Linked DNA regions of Homo sapiens. The protein of the gene in region 7 interacts with the protein of the main gene of each other region in a biochemical or structural test. Each region holds a gene or a part of one and is shown on either strand. Other genes may lie near its edges. The genes, in order: CDC34, HMGA1, LRIF1, HDAC4, HDAC3, NFE2L3 and PPARG.

Region 1 (3,500 bases), on a different chromosome or scaffold from region 7:
CCCGAGTGACGTGAGTGGCGGTGGGGCAGCCCCTCTTCTCTGAAGCACGTGAAAACCCAGAACAGACATGGGGAGGGAGAAAAAGCCAAAACGAAACAACCAGAGGAGACGGGGACCAGCACAAAACCTCCGTGAGGTAGTCTGTCGTCTAAGGAGCCACGGGTCCGGCCCTAGTGAGGTAAACTCGGCAAGTTTATTCTGGTGGTGTCAGGACTCCTCCGTGCCAGAGTCATCCTCATCGTCCCCGAAGCAGCTGTCGGCCTCCTCCTCCACCTCGCCGTCCTCGTAGTAGTCGTCGTAGAAGAGGTCTGAGCCCTCGTCGGGCGCCGGCGCCTTGGTCTTCACGCAGTACTCGGCCAGCGTGGTGGGCACCTTCACGCCGTCACGCTCCGCGTCCACCTTGGTCCCCAGGACCTGCTTCCTGGGGGGACAGGGTGGGTGAGGGCGCCACCCACGTGCCTGGACTCGGCCCCTGCCCGGCCCCCCTCCCCCAGGTCCGACGCTCACCCCAACGCTCAGGTTTCTCTTAAAACGGCGTGTGGCGACCACTTAGGACAAAGCCCTGTGCGTGAGGAACTCCAGGGGGAGAAATGACAGAGGAGGGGGCTCGGGAAGGGCAGGAGGTGCGGGTGGGAGGCTGGACGGGCGCAGTGCAGTCACACCCGCCTGCCCCGCCCCGAAGCACAACCCAAGGGACCCATCAGGAGCTGGGAGAAAATAACGATGCCGGCAACAGGGAGGGCCCATGCTGCCCCACTGGGGGGCAAAAGCCTTCCTCAGCGCAGGAGCAAAGGAAGCAGCTGGGAGGGCCCAAGGACAGGAGGCAGGACCATCCCTGGAGACGGGAACCAGCACAGGTGAGATGGGAAACGCAAAAACGGCCTGAGCCTCTCCGTGGCCTCAGCAGGATTCTAAACCCGGGGGCCTGGCCACCCCGGCCTCCGGATTCTAAACCGGGGGGCCTGGCCATCCCAGCCTCTGGATTCTAAACCCGGGGGCCTGGCCATCCCAGCCTCCGGATTCTAAACCCGGGGGCCTGGCCACCCCGGCCTCCGGATTCTAAACGTGGGGGGCCTGGCCACCCCGGCCTCCGGATTCTAAACCCGGGGGGCCTGGCCACCCCGGCCTCCGGATTCTAAACCCGGGGGGCCTGGCCACCCCGGCCTCCGGATTCTAAACCCGGGGGGCCTGGCCACCCCGGCCTCCGGATTCTAAACCCGGGGGGCCTGGCCACCCCGGCCTCCGGATTCTAAACCCGGGGGGCCTGGCCACCCCGGCCTCCGGATTCTAAACCCGGGGGGCCTGGCCACCCCGGCCTCCGGATTCTAAACCCGGGGGGCCTGGCCACCCCGGCCTCCGGATTCTAAACCCGGGGGGCCTGGCCACCCCGGCCTCCGGATTCTAAACCCGGGGGGCCTGGCCACCCCGGCCTCCGGATTCTAAACCCGGGGGGCCTGGCCACCCCGGCCTCCGGATTCTAAACCGGGGGGCCTGGCCACCCCGGCCTCCGGATTCTAAACCCGGGGGGCCTGGCCACCCCGGCCTCCGGATTCTAAACCCGGGGGGCCTGGCCACCCCGGCCTCCGGATTCTAAACCCGGGGGGCCTGGCCACCCCGGCCTCCGGATTCTAAACGTGGGGGGCCTGGCCACCCCGGCCTCCGGATTCTAAACCTGGGGGGCCTGGCCACCCCGGCCTCCGGATTCTAAACGTGGGGGGCCTGGCCACCCCGGCCTCCGGATTCTAAACCTGGGGGCCTGGCCACCCCGGCCTCCGGATTCTAAACCTGGGGGGCCTGGCCATCCCAGCCTCTGGCAGGAAGGGAGGACAAGTTAGCTCAAACTTCCTGGAGGGCACCGTGTACACCCGGCCCTATGAGGGGCTGCACCGCGCACACCAGGACCTACGAGGAACCTGCCCCCGGCTCCACCTCCAGGACACGCGTCAAGAATGTCCCCCCAGGACTGGAAGCAAAGGGGCTTCCGGGGGTGGCACAGCAGGGCCAGGCGGCACGCTGACCCCATTTGACAGAAAACAGGAACGAGGCTGCAGCCGCAGGCAATGGGCTCGAGCCCCTATCACCGACCAGGCACGGCTCTGGGCTCTGGGGCTGGCTGCTACCAGGGTGTGCGGGTCCCACAGTGCCCGCATGGGAGGGCACCAGGGAGCAGACAGACAGCCCCAAGCCCAGCCCACAAGCCCAGTGCTTTTTATGGGGATGCATGACGCGTGGAGGGCAGGCGTCTGGCCTCAGGGACGTCCCTGGGTGGCGGGACCCAGCGGACGCCAAGCTTTGCTTTCCAAGCTCTCCGATGGGCTGGGGGGGTGACTGACAGTGCCCCGGGGACGGCACTGCACGGGTGGCAGCAGTGGGGAGACGCAGGGGAGGGCCAGGGTGGACGGGCTGGGGGGGTGACGGTGCCCCGGGGACGGCACCGCAGAGGTGGCGGCTGTGGGGAGACGCAGGGGAGGGCCAGGGTGGGAACTGACCTGCACCGTGGAGGTGCCGCCGGCACACCGCCAGCATGAGCTGGAGGACGGTCTGGAGGTCCTGTTCAGCAAGACCAACATCCCTGACCAAGCCGGGCTCCACGGCAGCCTGCCCGACACAGCTCAGCGGGACTTGGGCTGCCACGAGGCCAACACGCACACAGATGAAAAAACAGGCAGAAACGGCGACCACAGCAGAGTCCACATGGCACATGTGTGTTGGCCCACAGGGAGTTTTGAGGGATAAAAATAGTGTGGCTTTTATTTCTGTGCTGGGATCTCAAGGAGGTGGTGCCTCAGGGAGGTGGCCGGGAAGAACCGGGCCAAGGAGCCAGCCACCTGGGCCAGGTGACACGACCGGACCGGGGCCACCGAGGACATCTGCACCAGAGGGACGGCCAGGGCAGCTACCCTGTGACCTCCAGAGGCCAGCAGGTGCTTGCAGGCCACTTCCCAGGAGGCCGCACGGGGCCCGCCCACCATGGCTGCTCAGAGCCGAGACCGCCCAGCACCAGGATGCTGCCCCGAGATGACCCCACGACACCAGGTACCAGCGAGTGCAGGATGGAAGGTGCCCTGGATGCTCCTGGGTCCTGGGGCGAGGAAGACACATGCATTATGTGTGCAATATTTTAAAAGTTGTTTTTAAGATTCTGTTTATACAAAATACCAACAAAAATAGGTGAGGCCTCTGTGAGGAAATCTATGCAATATCACTCTGAGAAAAAAAAAAAATGGATAGGAAGGGCCTCTATGTAACAGGAAGAGCAGGAACCATTAAGGCCGTCAACCCGTAAAGAAAGCCTTGTCTTTGTACACAGACACGCACGTGTTTACACATTCATGTGAACACAGGCACCCAAGAGAAGGGGCTGTGGGGCTCAGCTCTGGGGCATGAGGGCGATGGGAGGAGAGGGAGAGCCGTGGGTCACCACACACAGCCACGCAAGCTAAGTGGACTGCAGGTACAGAAGGCGCCGGTAGGCGACTGCACAGCTGTACCCAGAGCTC
Region 2 (3,933 bases), on a different chromosome or scaffold from region 7:
AGATGGATGAGACGCCGGAGGCCTAGGCTACACATTTTTCCAGTAACCAATCCCTGCCTGCCATGGTAAGGGGTGGGACAAGCGGCTCCACTTCTGAACCCCTCTCAATCTGTAAGATCAAGGTAATTATAAGGTACCTGCCTGAACTACCTCCTGACTGCTTCAAGGATCAAACTAGGTAATAGTTTAGAAAAACTTAAAATAATAGAAAGAAATCTTCACTCTAACCAAAATAAGAACTAGACCATTTGAAAATGATTTATGGGCCAGGTGAGGTGACTCATGCCTGTAATCCCAGCACTTTGGGATGCCAAAGCAGGAGGACTGCTTGAGGTCAGGAGTTCGAGACCAGCCTGGACAATACGGTGGGACTCCCATGTCTAATTTAAAAGAAAAAAAAAAAAGAAGAAAAAGAGTTTTTACCCCAATGAGAGGAAAAAAACATTTTTGCAAACTTGTGATTTCTAGAGGGCCCAGGACCTCCATTTTCAAGCATCAAGAGACCCTCCAGACAGCAGGACTTTGGTAATTATTCTATCTTATAATGTTTCAGACTTGGAGACCCTTTTAAACAAGGTGGTTGGTGATTTATCCTGCTCCGTCATTAGTGGCTTGGCCTGCTCTGCAATTACAGGCAGTGATTAGAATCTTATATTACACCACAGGTCCCCCTTCAAACTAAACATCAAAATTAATCAACTAAACGAGTGCTGACCTCATATAAGGTCTGCCTGGGGCCCCCTCATCGAGGGGGTTCCAGTTGGGCGAAGCCAGTCCGGAATCCCAGAGAGCCTGGCCCGGCCTGCCTGGAGATCTTGGCGGGTCTCCCTGGAAGCTCTCATACCATCTGGTGCCTCCCCCCACCTCTTGCTGCTGGGGACCCTTTAATCCCCTCAGCCAACCCCCCACGAACTAAATGAAGGCCCGAGGCCCTTTCCAGTGAGGCCAAGAAACGTTCGTCTTTTCCACCTGTTTCTGAACATCAGAGGCCTGTCTTGGAGGAACTACATTTAGGGCCTAACCCCAATCCCTCACTTTGTAATAAGCCCGCTTGGGCCTCAAGCCTGTCTCCTCCATACACTGTGCATGCAAACTGTGCTCCTCAAATACTTAAGGACTCTGCAGGAAAGGCCCTAGGAAATTATCTTGGGGGTTCCCTTGTTTTCTTCCCCGTCCCCCGTAAAAAAGTAGCCCAGAGAAGCCTTGAGTTGCCTAAGGTCACACAGCAAGTTGGCGAGCAGGAAGAAGTAGGTTCCCGGAGACCCTTTCAACCCGACACTTTGCCTACCCGCCTAGCGGCTAGGGCTAAACCCCCGAGGCATCAGGCTCCAGACCCGGCCCGAGGGTGACTCTGCAAGTGTCTGCGCCCGGCCGTTGCAGGCCGGCCGGCGGGACCCGGGGCCAGGGCGCGCGGGGGGAGGGGCGCAGGCCGCTCCTGCAGGCGCGGGAAAGCAGCGCACCCCGACCGCATGCACCGCCACGCGGGTGCACCCGGCCCCACTTCCTGCCAGAGGGGGCACCCAAGCCCGCCTTGGGGCAGGAAACCTGGCGCGCGCGGGCGCGGGGGAGAGGAAGAAAGCCCCCTCCCTCCGTCCCCTCCCCGCAAAATAAAGCCCCAGAAGAAAATAAAATAGAAACGGGGAGTCAAAGGGACTAGTTCCAACAGAGCCCAGCAAAGCAGCGAAACCAGTTTGTGGGGGCGGAGGGCAGGCCCGGCCCCTGGGGCTGAAGAGGCGCGGGCCAGGCCAGAGGTGGGGTCGGGGTGAAGCCCCAAACCCAGGCCCGCGCTCCGGCCTCATCTGCGGAGGGGGCGCGAGAGAAAGGCCGAGAGGGCGTAGGGCCGAATTTGGGGGTTCCTCCCCATCTCCCTCACTTCCAGAACTTCCCTGAGCTGCGGGGGGCGCCCGACCCCCCACTCTCCTGCCGCGCCGCAGCCCGTGTCTCTCCCCGCCCCTCACCCGGGCCCGGGCTCGGGCTCGGGCTCCGGCTCCAGCGGGAGCGGCCGCCGCGCGAGGTGCGCCGGGCTCCTCCGGGCTCCGCCGGGTGCACAACTCGCGCTCGCCGCAGCTGCGCGCCCCCTCCCCCACCGCGCGCCTTTCCCGGGTCCCCGCCCCCCGCAGGGCGCCCGCGGCGCGGGGGAAGGGGTGCGGGCGTCCTCCCCGCGCCGCCGGGCCCCGCCGCCCGCCCCCGCGCCGCGCGGCCCTCCCCCGCCGCCGGCTCGCGCCGCCCCGGCCTGGGAATAAAGCCGGCGGCGCGCGCTGCAGCCCCGGGCGGCTCGCAGGAGGGGCGACGTGCGGGCGGGGGCGCGGGCGCCCCCCTCCGCCGCCGCCGCCGCGGGCCCCGGGGACGACTCACCGCGAGCTCGGCCGCCGGCCTGCGGTGCGCGCTCCGGGTTGCCGGGAGCGGCGGTGCTGGGCGCTGAGGACCGGCCTGGCTCCGCCGCGGCCGCCGCTGGTAGCAAATGCGGATCTGAAACCGGGAGAGAGCAGAGGCGCTCAGAGACCGCCGCCGCCGCGTGCTCGCCGCCCAGGCCCCCGCGGGGTATTTATGTGTCACAGCCAGGCGGGGGGACAAAAATATTCCCCCTCCCCCGAAGGATGGCGAGGGGCAGGAAGCTGGGCACGGCCCGTGCGCGGCCTCAATAAATAAATAATTTAATTAAATTATAGATATAAAAAAAAGAAGCCACCGGAGCGGCCGCGAACTCACGCCTTCTTGGAGCCGCGCCAGCGCCAGAAATAGCCCCGGCTCGGAGTCCCAATTAGAGGAGCGCAGCACCGGCTCAGGGGAGCTTAAAAAGAGCGACCCAGGGGCAGGGGGGACGGGCCCGCCCGCGCCAGCCGTGTCACTCAGGGGGCGGGGCCATGCAAATGAGCCCGGGGATTTAAAAGGGCGGCCGCCCGCCAGCCGCCGCCGCCGCTGCCGCGCGGGTGGGTGCTGACGGCAGGGAGGGGCGTGTGGGAGGCCTGGGCTGCGAACTCGAGTCGACCGCCCACTCCTCGCAGTCCCGGACGGAGGAGGTGTGGGAAGGCACGCGCAGAGGAGTCACGAAGGAGCTTCTGGCGGGGGGTGGTGACGGGTGGCGGTATCCTTCCTCCCTGGTACAGGGGTCCCAGGGAGAGTCACCTCTAGGGGCTTCCAGGGCGTGTGGGCCCGGCCCCCCCCCCAGGGCGTGTGGGGGTGGACGGGGGTCCACGCGGGCCCAGGGGGTGAAGAGAAACGCGCTCGTTAGAGAATTCCGCGGCCTACACGCCGCCCCCTAACTAAAATAGAGAGATGGTAGATTTCCCCTGGGCGGACAGGTGTCAGCATGTGCCTTTCAGTGTCAACCCGCGTGTGGCTGATTGGTGAGATACAAGTCTTGTGAAATTCAAACGTGAAACTTGTGAAATCCAAAGTGTTTTATTAATGGCCACCAGCGAGCCATGATCAAGGTGGAGCCTTCCAGCGAAACCAACGATTGGCTCGTTGGCAGGTACACCCAAGGGAGGCTTCATACCTTGAGGTGACTTAGATGGTGTTCTGGAGATACGCAGGCCCACTTGGGGACCTGGGCCCTTCCGTTGGGACTGTAAATAAAAATAAAAGGTGGGCCAGAGGTCGCCTGGAAGCGCTTTGAGGGCAGGGGCCGAGCACGCAGGCCATCTCCGCCACGCCTGGCCCGCCCGGCGCCCGGCTTAACAAAGACTTGTTGCACCGAGCGAGAAGGAAGCCAAAGGGGAAGATGGCGGGGAGGGCGGTGGGGGAGGAAAGGGCGCAGGCGGAGCGGCGCGCCCTGCAGGCCGGCCCGGGGCCTTCTCGGGCGCACCTCCCGCGCCCGGTCCCCGAGGCGGCCTTCCACACCTCCTGTGATGCAGGGAATTGAAATGCGCTCCAGTGACACACGGCTGTGACTCATGTTTTTCTCTGCTCCCCTTCTTCCTCCCCGGTCAG
Region 3 (3,500 bases), on a different chromosome or scaffold from region 7:
GACATTATTTAGAAATTGTAGTCTTCTGGAAAAGTCACACATGCCTTTAATCGATCTTGTATTGAACAATCAGAATTTACCTCCTTACATCTCTGGAGTTCAATGAATTCTGTACTGAAGGGGAGAAATGCTGACATTATTGAGTAGACCTCTAAGTAAGCAAGGAAAAGATGGGTACAAATATCTAGTAAGCACACAGACAGACAAACCTTAAGTCGAACATAAAGGTAACTATGTGGGCATGTTGGGTAACTGGCTGAGGAGTCACAAAGAGCTAATAAAAAGGAAAATGAAATTTGTCTACCAAAAAAAAAATCAACCCATCAAAGATGCTGATAAAATCTTATTTCCACAAATTACTGAAAGGTATTGATTAGCCCTGTCTCACCTTTTCCATGGTATACCACCACCACCACCACAAAAAAACCCCACAAAACCCCAAAACCAACTCTTTTACATGCATATTGATCTCCTCATATACTAAAAAGGCTATTATATATGAACATACATATATACATGTATGTATATACATATACTCACATATTTTTACTAAGCTTTGAATTCACATTATCCTTCCCCAACTCTTCTAAACCTTTTTGCTCTGTGAATTTTTTGTTTTAAAGATTTGGCATGCCAAGTGATTCAAGAGAAAGACTGTACTCCTTTGTACAAGATTGTACCCAACTGTACTCCTCCTCAAATTTGCTCAGATGGAAGTTTTGACTTAAATACTCATATGTGTATAGTCTGTGTGTGATGGGGTTGGCAGTGGGGGAAAGAGGTATCATAGATAACTTTGAGAATTAAGAAAACAAACTTTTCTATATAGATATATAAAAAGAGCACCCTGACATGGGAAAATTACCTTTGGTTCTTGGTCTCTGAAAACACACTGTTGTGAAGTAACAGTTGTTGCATCAACAGAGGAACTTATTTTCTCTATGCTCTGGAGGACACTTCCTTTTCTAGCATAAATGACGGCTGTTACTTTTCTGGGGGCATTGTGTCCTGTACTAAATCCAACTGGAAAGATTGGATTTGTGAATAAAGTCTTACTCTGTTTTAAGTAGTTACTGGATTGGTTCATATGTGGATTTGTGGTAGAAGGAGATGGTTTCTCCACTTTATTCTTCTCTGCCCTTAGATTGGCCATGGAAGCAAGCTGGGTATTGGAAAGTGATTTTGTCTCCATCTGGGAAGATTTACTTTTAGCCAAAACAATATTTACAACCTCTCTGGATATTTCTGTGACTGGACTTGAACTCACTGTCTGTAACGTGTCTTTTCTTACTGGAGTATCAGGAGAAACAGAATTCTGTTGGTCAATTTGTGATGGCAGAACATCTGTCCCCTTTTTAGCCAACAGATAGACTTTCCCATTAAACATAACCAAAGCATTATCTTTAATAGGCATATTTTTGGATCGCGTCCCACTAGGATCGATGGTACTCAATGGTGGCATATTTATAGTATTATCTCCCAAATTTTTCCTATCTACAAAAGTTTTTAAAATCTTTGAAGCCACATTATTTGAAGACTTAACAGGAACAAGAGATGGCGTAAAAGGCTGTAGATTATCTTGGAAAATCCATTTCACTGGAGCAGCTTGAGAATGCTGACCACCTTTCAATTGTGTCTCTGTAGCAACATTCTTTGGAATTTGTGTGGTATTTAGTATTACTGGCTTTGCTATTTCTGTAACAGGTTTTGGGTAAATGTTTTGAAAGTTCTTGGTAACTACATTTTTCACTGTATTTACAGGAGATACATAAATAACGGTTGGCATTTGGGAGGCCTCAACCATTCCTGAGGTACTGGTGGTGGCAGTTGCAAGTATCTTTTGCTGCACTGAAGGAGGCAATGATGACGCTGGTACAGATTTCACTTCAGCATGGGCTGGAATCTGTAAATGATGCCCAGAAGGCAAAACTGGAGACTTCACAGTCACTGGAAGACTCTGGGTATTAACTACAATAAAAGATGAGTCTTTTTGTGTTGAGGGAGGAACAGCAAATGTTTGCATGGTGAGTCCATCAATTTTCACACCATGACTCTGAACTTTAGAAACTGATGAAGAAAAATTTCCAGTTCCCACAGAAGTAACTCTACCTTTTTCTGATGTATCTACTGTTCTTGTAAGAAAATAGTTTGAAGAACTGGCTGGCTGAAAAATGGGCAATTGAACTGATGCACTTGTGGAAGAGCTGGAAATCTGAGTCTGAAAAGTAACTTGAACTGGTTTTCCTGTATTCCCTTTCAAAGCATCAGACATGACTGAAGATTGAACTAGTGGTATAAGATTTCCAGAAGACTTAGGAATTGGAAGTAATTGCAGAAGATTTTTTCCATCCGAGCCAATCGTCTGAACTACTTGGTACATGCAGCCTGAAACACTTAAAAGAACATTGAGTAAATAAATACAACATACTACATGGTATATACATTTTATTTAAAAATAAATATTTGTAAATATTTGTAAATATTAAAATAAAGTATATAATTTTCCATTTTGAGTTTTTAAAGTGAAAGACTGCAAAACAAATATTTTGAAGTAGAAGAGATAATGATATAGTCAACTGCTTATATGATTAGGCAATGGGTATGAGATAATAACATTTATTCCTAAGACTAAAAGTAGACATTTCTAAGGTTTTGCCCTATATAAAATTATACTACTAAAGTAAGCTCCTCTTAAAATATTAGCATCCTCCCTTCCCCCTTTCCCTGAATTCCTTCCTCTTGTCCTCCTCCTCTACTCTAACTGAAGATTCTCATTCCCTCTCCCCTTACTCTTATTCCATTTCTCTCTTTTCCCCCTCAATCTGTTCTGTCTTCTTCCTTCAATAACTCACAAGTTCTGCCAGCCATTCTTCTTTTGCCTAAGCTATCTCTCATGGTGTTACCTTAGTTTGCCACATTTTTGTGCTATAGATTTCACTGAACTGTTTACATAGGAATCATTTTCTTCTGATTACTGTTTCAGCACATTTGAGGTTTAGTGCTACATAGTCTCTGGTATAGCAATTATTTATATTAGTCAATTGTCAATCACCTATCAACCCATACATATAATACCACTGCAATTTCAGCTGAATGGTTTTCAATCAATGTGGAACAGACTGGAAATCAATTTTTTTTAACTGAATCAATTCTGACCCCCATGCCTTGAATTATTTCTTAGTATAGACTGTCTAATCTTAAGAAAAATCAATATATACTAATCTCTGTTTGCATAATTAGTTATTTGGAGATTACTTGAATGTAAATACCTTACCTTATTTATATCTAAAACATTTTTCAGCTCCTGGGAAATATTGAGCTTTCATGTCACACATACTATCACTCTACCTAGGTACGCCTCACCCAACTCAACTCTTCACATAGCTCAAGTCTTGGCATAAATGATATTTCTCAAGAGATACATTTTCTGACCACTTTATCCTTGTCTTTCCTTCATAATTAATCCATAACATTATGCTTGTTAGCTTCCTTCATGGTAT
Region 4 (3,500 bases), on a different chromosome or scaffold from region 7:
GGCACAGACAGAGGACGTGTGGCTCCCACAGCGTGTCCCAGGGGTCCCGGGCTCTGCTCTCGTGTAATCACAGCCCCCCGCCAGCCATTCACAGCCCTGTCACTGGAGCCTCAGCGTCAACGCTGTGGACGTGGGCGAAGTGTGAGGGAGTAAGCGGAGAAGCGTGGGCTCATGATTCCTGAGCCGGACCAGAAGCTGTAGGTTCTCATGGCCCCACGGGCATGGGCTGTGGACTGTTCTTGGAGGAGACCATGGGTCTCTGGGACAGGAAAGTGGGCAAGTGAGCCCGTGACAGGTCCCCAGCATGACAGAACTGAAGGTGTGGGGTGTAGGGCGGGGAGAGGGCCTCTGTGACAGACCTGTGTGGTCCCCACCATCCAGCGTGGCCCTCGTGCCTGCCCAGCCCCTCCTCAGCCTCTGCAGAGCTGGGCCGGGAAGAGCCCCCCGCGCTGTGCCCACTGTGGCCCGCGTTGCACCCTCAGGCTGCACAAAGGCCACGTGTTACCTGTCGTGAACCTCGGCTTGGTGGGGGGCTCCTGCACAGACACGGGGAAGGTGGCAGACGCGGGTGAGGACTGCGCCCGGGACAGAGGCCTGTGGCCGCCGAAGGACACGGGGATGCCGGCGGCCTCCATGGACGCCTGGTAGTTCCTCAGCTGGTGGATCCGCTGCTGCTCCAGCAGGAGGGCTTGCTGCGGGGAAGAAACGGCCGTGTTGGCGGTTGCGGATGTCTCCCGCCCCTGGGCTGCAGGGCTAGGGGTTGCCCTCTCTTGCAAGTCTCCCGTCCACGCACAGGCCATACATGGGCCACAAGGATGCCGGGAGGCCAGCTGCGTGGAGAGGCCTTCCCTGTGAGTGCCCTGAAGCCTGAGTGGGCCCAGAGCCAAGAACGAGGCCAGCACAGGCTCTGCCTCCCAGGACGGTCTCTCTAGGGAAGGCAGGCTGTCCACGTGGGATCCTGCCATGGGTTACGTTAACAGGATAACACAGGTTGAGTCAGGGGGTCCCAGGGAGGCCTGGCCCAGTATGGGGTATCAAGGAGGGCTTCTCTGAGGAGGTGCTGAGCCAGGAGCAGCCTGGAGCAGGTGCAGGGGAGTAGGGCCTGGCAGGTGTGGAGAGAAGCTCTTGCTGGGGCGGCAGCCTGGCCCTCGCTGGTTTCACTGGGGGATATGCGAAGGCCATGTAGATGTGGGGACCACAGCGTCCACTCTGCCATACCACACACATACGGTGAGTGGGCACGAAGCCCAACCCCCTTGTTGGGTTTGTGGGTCTTAGTTCTGACCAACAGCATTGAATCTGCATGCCAAACTTGGGCGAGAAAGCACCATCGGCTCTCAGACTTGAAAGTGCCAACTGGGCTTCATCTGCAGCCGCTCCCCTCCCTGGTCTCACATCCCACACACCCTCGTGCAGGCTAAAAGCAGTAACAGCCCATCAGCTTCTGGGCACCCAGGACCTTTGGGGCCTAGAGCAGGCCTGCTGGTGGGGATGTGCCTCTCTGATGAGATGGAGCTGGGCTGGGCTCTGTGTGTGGGGGGGGCACTCAGCCAGGGGCCTGGGACACCCTGAGGGATTCTGGGAACAGGCTGAGGTGCAAACCCCCATACGAGGCAGAGTGGAGTGGAGGGAGCAGGGCAGAGATGAGGTCACAGCTGCCAAGCCTCTCCCCAGACAGCAGCTGAGGGAGAGCACAGCAACCTGCCACCCAGGCCGAGGCACAAAGAAAGCCGGGCGCCTCCTTGCTGGGAGCTCTGCGCCAATCCTGTCTTAGTTTTGATGAACAAATCCTGTGAACATGGAAAACCAGGTACCTACATCCCAGCTCCTGTATGAAGGCAGAGCCCAGCCCTGTGCTGCCAGCACTGGGGGAAACCAGAGCTACCCGGCCAGGCTCCGATCTGTCCTGCCTTTAGGAATCAGGCTGGGCGTGGTGGCTCATGCCTGTAATCCCAGCACTTGGGGAGGCTGAGGCGGGTGGATCACCTGAGGTAAGGAGTTCGAGACCAGCCTGGCCAAAATGGTGAAACCCCATCTCTCCAAAAAAACAAACAAACAAAACAAACAAACAAACAAAAAATTAGCCAGGCGTGATGGTGGGTGCCTGTAATCCCAGCTACTTGGGAGGCTGAGGCAGAATAATTGCTTGAGCCCAGGAGGCGGAGGCTGTAGTGAGCTGAGATGGCACCACTGCACTCTAGCCTGGGCAACAGAGTGAGACTCTGTCTCACACACACACACACAAAAGGAATCAGAGCCAGGAGGGAGCAGAGAAGAAGGAAGCCCTGAGACAGTGGGAGGAGCTGCAGCAGGAGCTGGAGCAGGAGCCAGCACCCACAGGCCCCCAGTCTGCTGCTGACCAAATTCAGCTGGGATTGCCGTGGGCCCCACGCGGTTAAGTGGTTAATAAGCAATCCTCCCCGACGCGGGCTGGAGGTGCCCCGCCTTATGTTTACCTCGGCAAATTGCTCCGTGTACTACGACGTTTCCCTGATAAGGGGTTCTGCCTATTACTCTCCAGAGAGAACAGAAAATAAGTGTTTCTAATAATCATCTCATGCTTGGAATATAACAAGCCTCTTTTTCTCAAAGTAAAGGCTGATCTATGAGAAACTAGCCCTAAAAATTATTAATGTAAATAGTTTCCCATTTCTTATCAGCCTAATAATAGCACACTGAATTTCAGATCTTCATCAACTTACAAGGCCCGACCACAGGAAGAGGCCCCCACCCTGGGCCTGTCGGACAGGACCTGTGGACGAGTGTTCACCATGAAGCACCGTGTGTGTGCCAGAGAGGCCCGGGGCTTTCTCTCTCTGTCTTTGCCAAGCGTTAGTTCTGCTGGGCTTTGTAGTGTTTAGTGCCCGGGGTGCTAATTAAGAAGGCCCAGAAATTAGAGACAGGCCCCCCTCTGAACAAGAAGGAGAAATAGCACCCAATGCCAGCCACTGGGGGAAGCTCGGTGGAGAAGGGCTCCTGACCCAGAAGCCTCTGGAGACCACTGAGCACTGATCCCGTGTGTGGCAGGCTTGGGTCTAGGTGCTCCAGGTACAAGGCCCCACACTGATTCATTCAGTGGCAAGCATTTAAGAACTGTAGCTGAGAATTAAGGGGAACAGTTTACTGCAGGGCGTCCTGCTCCTGGCTTCCAAGGTGCTGCTGGGGGTGGAGATGCAGCGTCTGGCCACACAGCTGGCAGTCAGGAAGCTGGGGAGGTGCTCAACGGCACGGCCGGCATGGAGTCCAGAGAGAAGGGAGGGAACGAGCCAGTGGCTCCTGCAGCCGAGGCAGCAGCTCTGCTGCTGGAGGATAGAATCAAATCCTACAGAGCTGTGGTTCCTCGGACTGGCTTCCTGCCTACAGGGAGGAAGCCACTTTCCTGAGGGCACTCTAGCTGCAGATACGGGGCTCCAGCTGGCTGCCCAAATGCCTTAGGTATTTCTGCTGACTCAGAAGTTTAATGTTTCAATGGAAATTAACCAGTCATTCACTGGCCTTCT
Region 5 (3,500 bases), on a different chromosome or scaffold from region 7:
TCAGGGAGTTTGTATCCTAGCTGCGGAAAGAAGCAAGCAGCTTCCAGGTACTCAAGTACAATGTAAAAAGGAAATCAGTTGAAAGAAAACATGAGCTCTGTTTTTCTTAGTCTTCTCAGTGTAACAAATTTTAGCATAATGTTCAATAATATTTTTCAGTCACATATTTTAAAGAAAGAACTGTATACCTACATATGTGAAACAGTGATGAGATAACCCACGAAAAGCCTGTAGCACAGTATACAGTATCCGCTCAGCCTTTAATAAATGTCAGCTATAATTATTACCATTGTTATTCTTTATAAAAAGTAAAGGCTTGAAGCCAGACACAAAAGCCTACTTACTGTATGACTCCATTTATGTAACATTCTGGAAAAGGTAAAATACAAGGACAGACATCTTATCAGTAGTTGGCTGGATCTAGGTTGCAGAGAAGTTATTAACTACAAAAGGGTGAGTGACCTTTGTTGGGTAGTGGAAATTTCCTGTACCTTGATACCTTTTTTTTTTTTTTTTTTGTAGAGACAGGGTCTCACTATGTTGCCCAAGCTGGTCTCAAACTCCTGGGCCTAAGTGATCCTCCCGCCTTGGCCTCCCAAATTGTTGGGACTACAGGTGTGAGCCATCGGCGCTGGCCCTATACCTTGATATATTCTATCAAACCTCTCAGAACTCTTACACCTAAAAAAGGTTAATTTTACTGTATGCAAGTTATACCTATATAAACCTGACTTTTTAAAAAGGAAAGGCTTAGGCAATCCCTAGTTTTAGGTCTCAAAAAAAAAAAATAGTGCAGCTGATACATTTGACCATGTGAAAAACAGAACTGTAGGGGTTTTTTGTTTGTTTGTTTTTTGAGATGGGGTCTTGCTCTGTCGCCCAGGCTGGGGTGCAATGGTGCGATCTCGGCTCACTGCAGCCTCCGCCTCCCGGGTTCAAGCAAGAATTGTAGGGTTTTATAGTTTCTCAAAAGGCTTGGAAAGAATTAGTGATTAATACCAGAAAACTAAGCAAATGAAAAAATAATGCAATTGTCAGCTCCAGGAAAAACAAAAAGCTTTAGAAGAAAATAGATTAAATCACACTACACTATTTGGCTTGATAGTAAATGAATCTTTCAGAGTTATAATAATGTAAACACAGAATACTGATTTATTTTTAAATTACTATGAAGCTGAAAGGGGAAAGGAAGCCAATGTGATGGTGTAAGAAGACTAAATGCTCATATCCCATACTAAAAGCTTAACAGATAATGCCTAAAATTGACAGACGAAGAAATAGCAATGAGAGACAATACAGGAGGGGAGTATGATTACAAGCACCGATTCTGGAGCTAGACTACCTAGGTTCTTTAACACCTACTAATGATAGTGAGGTTGTACAAACTGTTTAACCTTTCTGTGCTTAAGTGTCCTCATCGGTAAAAGGAAACAATAATAGACCCTGCTTCATAGGGGTTGTTGAGATTAAATAAGCTAATGGCTGTAAAGCACTTAGAACAGTACCTAGTATATAACAGGTATTACCTAAGGATTACAGATTAGTAATAACAGTCAATTAATATTATTATTTAGAAATCCAAAGGTAAATACCAGAAGACATAGGGGAAAGGAGCTGAAAGTGGCTGTCACTGGGCAGAGGGATTTATGGGTGAAAAGGAGAGGTCTGGAATTTTTTTTTTTTTTTTTTTTTAAGACAGAGTCTCACTCTGTTGCCCAGGCTGGAGTGCAGTGGTGCAATCTCAGGTCACTGCAACCTCCAACTCCCGGGTTCAAGCAATTCTCCTGCCTCAGCCTCCTGGAGTAGCTGGGACTACAGGCACGTGCCACCACACATGACTAATTTTTGTATTTTTAGTAGAGATGGGGTTTCACCATGTTGGCCAGGCTGGTCTTGAACTCCTGACCTTAGGTGGTCCACCCGCCTCGGCCTCCGAAAGTGCTGGGATTACAGGCGTGAGCCACTGCGCCCGGCTTGGGACTACTTTTTTATTTTTTTCATTTAAAGGCCTATAGTACAATTTGGCTACTTATGTTAGAATACTTTGAAACCAATCAGAAATTCATTAAACAGAAGAAAAATTCCTGATTCTCATCGGAAATACAGATAAGCACAACTGTAACTTGTTTGACAGGAAGACTGATGCAGCATAAATAGCCCAGAGATAGTATTCTAATTAGCATTCCCTAATCGCACAAAGAGCATCTACGGGACCCCAGTGTGGCGTAAGGGCTGACCCTGTATTCACAGAGCTAGAAAGTGAGCTCAGAAATAACAGCAGGAATACTAACAAAAAAACAAGAAACCTCCCCAAACAGCATGTGACTGAACACCAAATGAGCAGTGCAGTGTGTGCAAGACAGAGCTCTATGGGCTGGTGTGGTCAAGAAAGGTTTCATGGAGATGGTGTGAAGGCTGAGAAGGCCTTGAAGAGGTTGAATAGAGAACTAAGGGCATTCCAGGAAGGCATCCTGTGCAGCTGAGGTGTAGGGATAAAGTTGGAAAGGTGCCAATGCCAGCCTAATGAGTTGGCCTCTATCCTACAGCCCTGGCTGCTTCTGTCATTAAGATCTTTCAGGAAAACAGATTAGTGGTTTAAAAACCCGGGATCTGGATCATGCCCCCTCCAATGACCAGTTATGTGACTACGGCTAAGTTACCTAGATATTCCCAAACCTCAATTTACTTATATATAACATCAGAAAAAGGTCTATTATAATACATCTAAGGATTGGTATGAGAATTAAGTGGATTTACCAGCAACCCTTGGCATAATACCTAGCAGAGTAAGCACTCAGTAAATGGTAGCTATCATAAGAAATTCTACAGGATCAACAACCTGGTTTCTTCAAGAAATAAATTCAAGGGGGTGACAGAAAAGCTACAAATTAAAAGTCTTAAGAGACATATCAACCAAATGCACTGTATAGACCTTGTTTAGATCTGGATTTAAATTAGCTACAAAATAATTATGAGACAACTGCAGAAATTTGAATATTGATCCCATATTTGATGACATTAAGGAATCACTGTTAACTTTTTAGGTTTGATAATGATACTATGTTTTTTTAAAAGAGTATCATTTAGAGATACATAATAAAATATTTATGGATAAAAGGATATAACATCTAGGATCTGCTTTAAAACAATCTAACATGAGGGAGTATAGATGAAGTAAGAGTGGCCACTTGCTCAGCTGGGTGCGATGGCTCACGTCTGTAATCCCAGCACTTTTGGAGGCTGAGGCTGGTGGATCACCTGAGGTCAGGAGTTCAAAACCAGCCTGACCAACATAGTGAAACCCCATCTCTACTAAACATACAAAAATTAGCCAGGCATGGTGGCAGGCGCCTGTAATCCCAGCTACTCGGGAGTCTGAGGCATGAGAATCGCTTGAACCCAGGAGGCAGAGGTTGCAGTGAGCCAAGACTGCACCACTGCACTCCAGCCTGGGCTACAGAGTGAGACTCTGTCTCAAAAAAAAAAAAAAAAAAAAAAAG
Region 6 (2,220 bases), on a different chromosome or scaffold from region 7:
GTCTGTCAGATAATATCTACTTAACATGCTATTGAAAGAATCAACAGGCATGCCGACAATTTCATCTACAGAAAAAGGGATATGCAAAGCTTTAGCACGCTGTTCATCACGGCTCAAGTTTCTATCTGTGTCTTCAAGGTATCTACTCCTTATCTTCTGTGACTTCCCAGGCCACGGAAAAGGTTCAGAAGTAGATTCTGGTGCAGTTGGCTGTAAGTGGTAAGTGTGGTTATGAAATACGTGTTGAAATGTAAGATCTCCATGGAAATCAGAATCACTTTGATCCAAGTGACAAAGCTTACTGGGTTCTGGGTAGTAGCCACCTACAGCACCTTCTAAGTCATGATGGGAACTAGATTCATGGTCAGTGCAATAACCTATAGCACCTTCATCACACACAGAGTGAGAGGAATTAGACTTGATGACAGAGGTATTATTGTGACTTGAATCTAAAGAAAGGCCAGAATCAGAATCTGGTTCATCAAAAAGCTGAGAAACATCGATTGGATCAAAGTTGTCTTCTGTGGCCAATGACATTAAGTTTATCTCATCAAATATATTTATGTCAAGGTCATACAGTAGGTCTTGGCTTGTTAGATTCCTCATATGATTGTCAACCGGTGAAAGAAATCCTGTCAAATTAGTTCCAGGAAGGGTTTGCTCAGGATTGGTGGTATGAGAATTTAACTGCAGAAATGGTTCTTGTGACTGTGAAGTCCTTGCTGTTGGATCTCTTCTAAATGTATTGTTGGGACAAAGCAAGATGGCCTCATGAAGATTCACATCCTGACTTATAGCCTGGCTGAAGTTTACATGATAATGTGCTGAAGAATTCATGCCATCACTGATACTGCCTGGAAGAGGAATATCTCCCAATGAGATGCCCTGAAAAACGAAGGAGAAACACTTCAAACATGAATAGCCCTATTTCTGAAGCAGTTCTATTACCTAACAACTTTCTTTCCCCTCTTTTGTCAATTCCTCTACATTTAATAGAGATAGATGCTGTTGGCAGTAACTTCCTAGTTAAATACAGGCAATACAATACGAGATGTGAGTCCAAATCAGAATACCTGGAATTCTGAGTAACCTAGAAATTAAGATGGATTAGTATAAAAGCTGACTGGATTTTCTTAAAAAGTCTAATGTTACAATCTTGTAATTTGCTACTTTATAATAAGATGCAACTCATCCTAGCGGTTGGTAATCACATTGTGGAGGGTCAGGGATAATAAACTACAGTGAAGTAGTCTGGAGGAGAGAGGCTGTTTAAATGCCTCTAAGCGCTAAAACTACAAGGCTATTGTGAATATTGCTGCAATAAACATGGGGGTGCAGGTGTCCCTTTGATACACTGATTTCCTTTCCTTTGGATAAATACCTGATAATTCTTTTAGTTTTTTGAGAAATCTCCACGCTGTTTTCCATGACTAGTCTAAATTTGATTATACCTTTGGGATTATTTGGAAAGAGGAATGCTATACATATTTGGTTAATTCTAAGCTGAAGTGCTTCTGTAAAAATAAGCATTACTTTAAACTGCTGTGTCATCCAAGTAAAGGAGTTGTATTTGTTCACCAAAAGGTCAGTGCAGATATGTTCCTGCGAGGATAAAAGCCAAAGTTCCAATTACCTCCAGTGAATTTTCAGGCTGTGATGAAAGCAACTGGAATAAGTCTTCCAGAGAGAAAGAAGTATCTGTCCCATTCAGATGTCTCTGTAGAGAAACACAAAAAGTGCATCTTTCACATAAAAGACTGAACTGGTTGGGGCTTTAGGCTTTATCTTTAAAGGATCACCAGGTATTATTTCCACACTGGATTTTTATGCTATTATGTTCCTTGGTTGGAAGTTCTACTTTTTATTATATTTTGAGACGGATCTCACTCTGGCCCAGAATGGAGTGCAGTGGTGCAATCTCGGCTCACTACACCCTCTGCCTCCCAGGTTCAAAGGATTCTCCTGCCTTAGCCTCCGGAGTAGCTGGGATTACAGCTGTGCACCACCACGTCTGGCTAATTTTTGTATTTTTAGTAGAGACAGGGTTTCACCATGTTGGCCAAGTTGGTCTCGAACTTTTGACCGCAAGTGATCCACCCACCTAGGCCTCCCAAAGTGCTGGGATTACAGACGTGAGCCACTGCAGCTGACCTATTTCTCTGATTATGGTACTCAGTATTTCAACATGCATACTTAAAAGTCCAAAGCTAATCAGTATTT
Region 7 (3,500 bases):
TGCACTCCAACCTGGGCAACAAGAGCGAAACTCCATCTCAAAAAAAAAAAAAAAATTTTTTTTTGAACCTTCTTGAAAACAAACTGTAAAAATACATTATATTGCTTTTAAATAAAATCAGGATGTTTCTAATCAGTTCCAAATTCTTTAGGAAAACATGTAGTAATCCTATATTGCCAAATGCCTGGGTATTTTCTTCACTCTTCTGGATTATACTTGACATATGCAAATGATTTTTGAAGTTTCTACTTCATTTATATTGACATCATTCTTATGTTTGTTCTCCTTTATAAACTTTATCCACCATATAAAACAGAAGAATTTATATAGGTGCTTTTCTAGATGCAGTCAAAAGCTTGTTTACACAGGTAATTATCAACTGACGGAAAGGATAACATTCAGTAAGGAACACTTTGAGATTCTCTGTTTTAGATTCACAGACTTTAGCAAGACTTTGTAAAAAATGCATGACGAGTAAGCAATGTGATTAGTCATGAGGCACGAGGGTAGCCCATACCTAACTGCTAAATACCACCTATTAGCTGATTCACAGAATTATGACCTTGCTTTTGAGGTGGCTACTAAGTTTCTATTTCTAACAGAGATGCACTGGCTTGCCATACTATTTTCAGCAAAAATAAAATTAAGTATGTATAATAATAATTATTATTATTTCGAGACAGAGTTTCACTCTTGTTGCCCAGGCTGGAGTGCAATAGCGTGATCTCGGCTCACTGCAACCTCTGCCTCCCGGGTTCAACCGATTCTCCTGCCTCAGCCACCTGAGTAGCTGGGATTAAAGGCACGTGCCACCATGCCGAGCTAATTTGTATTTTTAGTAGAGGTGGGGTTTCTCCATGTTGGTTAGGTTGGTCTCAAACTCCTGACCTCAGGTGATCCTTCTGCCTCTGTCTCCCAAAGTGCTGGGATTACAGGCGTGAGCCACTGCGACTGGCCGCATGTATGATATTTTATGATCTGTGGATCTGCCAAAGGATTAAGCATTATTTATACTACCTTGGCACATCATTTTCTGAAGTGATTGAAAAGTTCCTCTCATTTCAATCTATTAGGAAGCTACTTTTAAAGCCTGGAAGAGTTGACTCATGAAGAGACCACATAATTTGTCTAACATCACAGAGGAAATACAAGATATAATGAAGTGATAATATTCAGATATTTAATTACATTAAGATAATACTAGCTCATAACTTGAACTGTGATTACATTTCTTAGTTTAATTGATGTTTCAGAATAACTGTTTTGAGGTCAAAAATGGTTCAAGGAAGATCTGCGACTTGTCTTGACTAAGAGAAAAAAAATGATGGGTAAATATATCTTTTCCTATCACTGCTATTCCAAATGGTTATTTTCCTATTTTGTTTCAAAGTTTCTGGCTTATGAGGAAACTGGGACATGCATTAACTTTATTTTTCCCTCTCCTAACCCCCTCTTTCAAACTCCAAATCTGTTTTCTACTCCTTAAAGGCCTTGTTTTCAGGTAGCAAGGAAACAAGCAACTAGCCTTTCACATTTTTGCTGATAGTGGTTTAGTGAACTAACCCTGCCAGGAACTTTGGCATTTTAAAAGTAGACCCAAAGCTTTCAAATTCAAAGACATTTTAAATTTCAATTCAAAGACATTCAAATTCAAAGACATTTTAAGAGGTGTATGACAGCCAGAGGGGTGTGGTCAAGGTTAGGAAGTTCCTTCCGGAACTTCATCATTGCACTCGAACAGTTTGACAGTTATATTTCTCCACTGCCCTCGATATGAAGGAAAATTTATTCCTTAAACATACAGGATGAAAAAGTAACCTCTTTCCATTCCCTTGCCCAAATTATCTCCTTTAGTATAGAGCCAGAAAGAATAACAGTGCTAAGTGGCAAACTGAGATGTCCTACAATGTCACCAAGAAGCAGGGTAAATTCTTAGAAATCAACCTTATATTTTAAGACTATACACAGTAATCATGCAACCTGCTGACTGTGGGAGTTGAGCATATACAGACCTGGTACATTCCTACTCAGGGTATTTCCCTATTTCTCTACCTCCCTCATATCTACCTTCTCCTTACCTGTGGCAAACTGCGAAGGACTTCTCACCCCACGTTTTTGCTAATCTGAACTCTTCTCAGAAGGTCAGATAATCTGACTCAATATGTCATATCCACACATAATCCTCCCAGATGAGTCCACAAATTAAAGTGGTTTTTTTTTAATAGTGACATAGTTAAAACCAAGCAATGAATTTATTTTCTAAAATCAATGAAGTGGAATAAAAATGCTTCCTAAACAGATATTGAATCCAACTGAACTGAACTTACACAATCTAGTTTAAATCCTGACTGGAGGGTTTAAAATCTCCACTTAATGGATTCAATTCCTTTATATCTAAAAAATCGCAGTAGGAAAAAAAATTCATGGCACTGTCCCACAAAAGATTTTCAAGTTGAGAACAGCCTGGCCACTGGAACAGTTGAAGGTATGGCAATGACTCTGAGAAAGCCTACGCTGTAGGATTAAGGCAGTGGAAGATAACACGGCTCCCCACTCCCGGACAGGGACACTCAGCCCACCTACACGCACCAGCATGAGCCTTTCTTTGCCTTCGCCTCTGCATCCTTTTAGTGAAGTCCCTACTTGGGCTTTATAGCTCCACACTGCAGTGGGCAGAGTGGCTTGCCAGTCCAGTGTGCAGTTTGGGGCCCAGAGAAGGTGGGAGAAGTCCTCTCCAACAATCCTCAGCCCCCGGGGCCCACGCACACAAGCCTCTTCACCCCATCACCCCGTGTGCTGTTACCAGTAACTTCCCATCACCAAGACACCGCTTGCAGAGGCCTCCTCTTTGGCATATTCAGTCCAAGTCCCTTACTTTCTTAAGCAGGAGACACTTCACAACAATATGTATCAACAATTCACGCGAAGAATTTAAAATTTATTATTTGGATGGTGCACAGTTAATTATATGTTTTTCCACTTACTCCCTACTAGCAAATAGGTGGGTTATTAGGAGATATCTGAACCTTTCAAGCCACTAAAACACTATTTTTTGGTGAGTGCTTGTTGAAAGAGACCCATTTTTAATGACAAGCACAAGTCACTATTTAGTCTTTTAAGTTGTGACACTAAACTGTCTTCTGATCTGATGGATCCTAGGCCTCATTATAAAACGAACTTGCTCCTGGGGAATATACGTTAAGAATTCACAAGGTGTGCCATAAAGATATGCAAAGACTAGAGCTTTATCAAATCAAAGCGCACAATCTGTGCCTTCTAGATGCATCGGATGTATAATATTAACATAAGAGGGGCTACACAGGACTCGCAAAGCTGGAATAAAAATAATTACTATGCTGATTTTTGTCCAAAGTCATCAGGGAATGGAAAATACAATTTTAAATTGAATGATAATAAAATATTCCCAGAAACAGTTTATAAATTGATCACCACATGAGAAGCATCATCTTCAATCTTAACAATCTCAAAGTTATTGAGGT

Evidence for each region.
Region 1: the proteins of PPARG (region 7) and CDC34 form a complex in vitro, tested with the Homo sapiens proteins (2 studies listed by BioGRID).
Region 2: the proteins of PPARG (region 7) and HMGA1 form a complex in vitro, tested with the Homo sapiens proteins (one study listed by BioGRID).
Region 3: the proteins of PPARG (region 7) and LRIF1 form a complex in vitro, tested with the Homo sapiens proteins (one study listed by BioGRID).
Region 4: the proteins of PPARG (region 7) and HDAC4 form a complex in vitro, tested with the Homo sapiens proteins (2 studies listed by BioGRID).
Region 5: the proteins of PPARG (region 7) and HDAC3 form a complex in vitro, tested with the Homo sapiens proteins (3 studies listed by BioGRID, with this or other methods).
Region 6: the proteins of PPARG (region 7) and NFE2L3 interact in a test that uses a peptide from one of them, tested with the Homo sapiens proteins (one study listed by BioGRID).

The regions. Positions count from the first base shown.
Region 1 is NC_000019.10:538,260-541,759, reverse strand, and holds part of CDC34 (ubiquitin-conjugating enzyme E2 R1), read right to left. Parts: intron 3,083-3,500; coding exon of another isoform or gene 2,770-3,082; exon of another isoform or gene 2,724-2,769; intron 422-2,723; coding exon 208-421; 3' UTR 1-207. UniProt on the Homo sapiens protein: E2 ubiquitin-conjugating enzyme that accepts ubiquitin from an E1 ubiquitin-activating protein, and catalyzes its covalent attachment to other proteins by an E3 ubiquitin-protein ligase complex. In vitro catalyzes 'Lys-48'-linked polyubiquitination.
Region 2 is NC_000006.12:34,235,740-34,239,672, reverse strand, and holds the start of HMGA1 (high mobility group protein HMG-I/HMG-Y), read right to left. Parts: upstream 2,801-3,933; 5' UTR 2,792-2,800; coding exon of another isoform or gene 2,710-2,791; exon of another isoform or gene 2,470-2,709; coding exon of another isoform or gene 2,356-2,469; intron 2,259-2,355; coding exon of another isoform or gene 1,293-2,258; intron 883-1,292; exon of another isoform or gene 716-882; intron 1-715. Other genes in the region: translation initiation factor IF-2-like, read right to left, coding at 1,293-2,258, 2,356-2,469, 2,710-2,791, 2,943-3,098, 3,417-3,427. UniProt on the Homo sapiens protein: HMG-I/Y bind preferentially to the minor groove of A+T rich regions in double-stranded DNA. It is suggested that these proteins could function in nucleosome phasing and in the 3'-end processing of mRNA transcripts.
Region 3 is NC_000001.11:110,950,423-110,953,922, forward strand, and holds part of LRIF1 (ligand-dependent nuclear receptor-interacting factor 1), read right to left. Parts: intron 2,394-3,500; coding exon 866-2,393; intron 1-865. UniProt on the Homo sapiens protein: Together with SMCHD1, involved in chromosome X inactivation in females by promoting the compaction of heterochromatin.
Region 4 is NC_000002.12:239,111,021-239,114,520, forward strand, and holds part of HDAC4 (histone deacetylase 4), read right to left. Parts: intron 693-3,500; coding exon 506-692; intron 1-505. UniProt on the Homo sapiens protein: Responsible for the deacetylation of lysine residues on the N-terminal part of the core histones (H2A, H2B, H3 and H4).
Region 5 is NC_000005.10:141,630,350-141,633,849, forward strand, and holds part of HDAC3 (histone deacetylase 3), read right to left. Parts: intron 1-3,500. UniProt on the Homo sapiens protein: Histone deacetylase that catalyzes the deacetylation of lysine residues on the N-terminal part of the core histones (H2A, H2B, H3 and H4), and some other non-histone substrates.
Region 6 is NC_000007.14:26,183,198-26,185,417, reverse strand, and holds part of NFE2L3 (nuclear factor erythroid 2-related factor 3), read right to left. Parts: intron 1,718-2,220; coding exon 1,634-1,717; intron 886-1,633; coding exon 1-885. UniProt on the Homo sapiens protein: Activates erythroid-specific, globin gene expression.
Region 7 is NC_000003.12:12,292,070-12,295,569, reverse strand, and holds part of PPARG (peroxisome proliferator-activated receptor gamma), read right to left. Parts: intron 1-3,500. UniProt on the Homo sapiens protein: Nuclear receptor that binds peroxisome proliferators such as hypolipidemic drugs and fatty acids.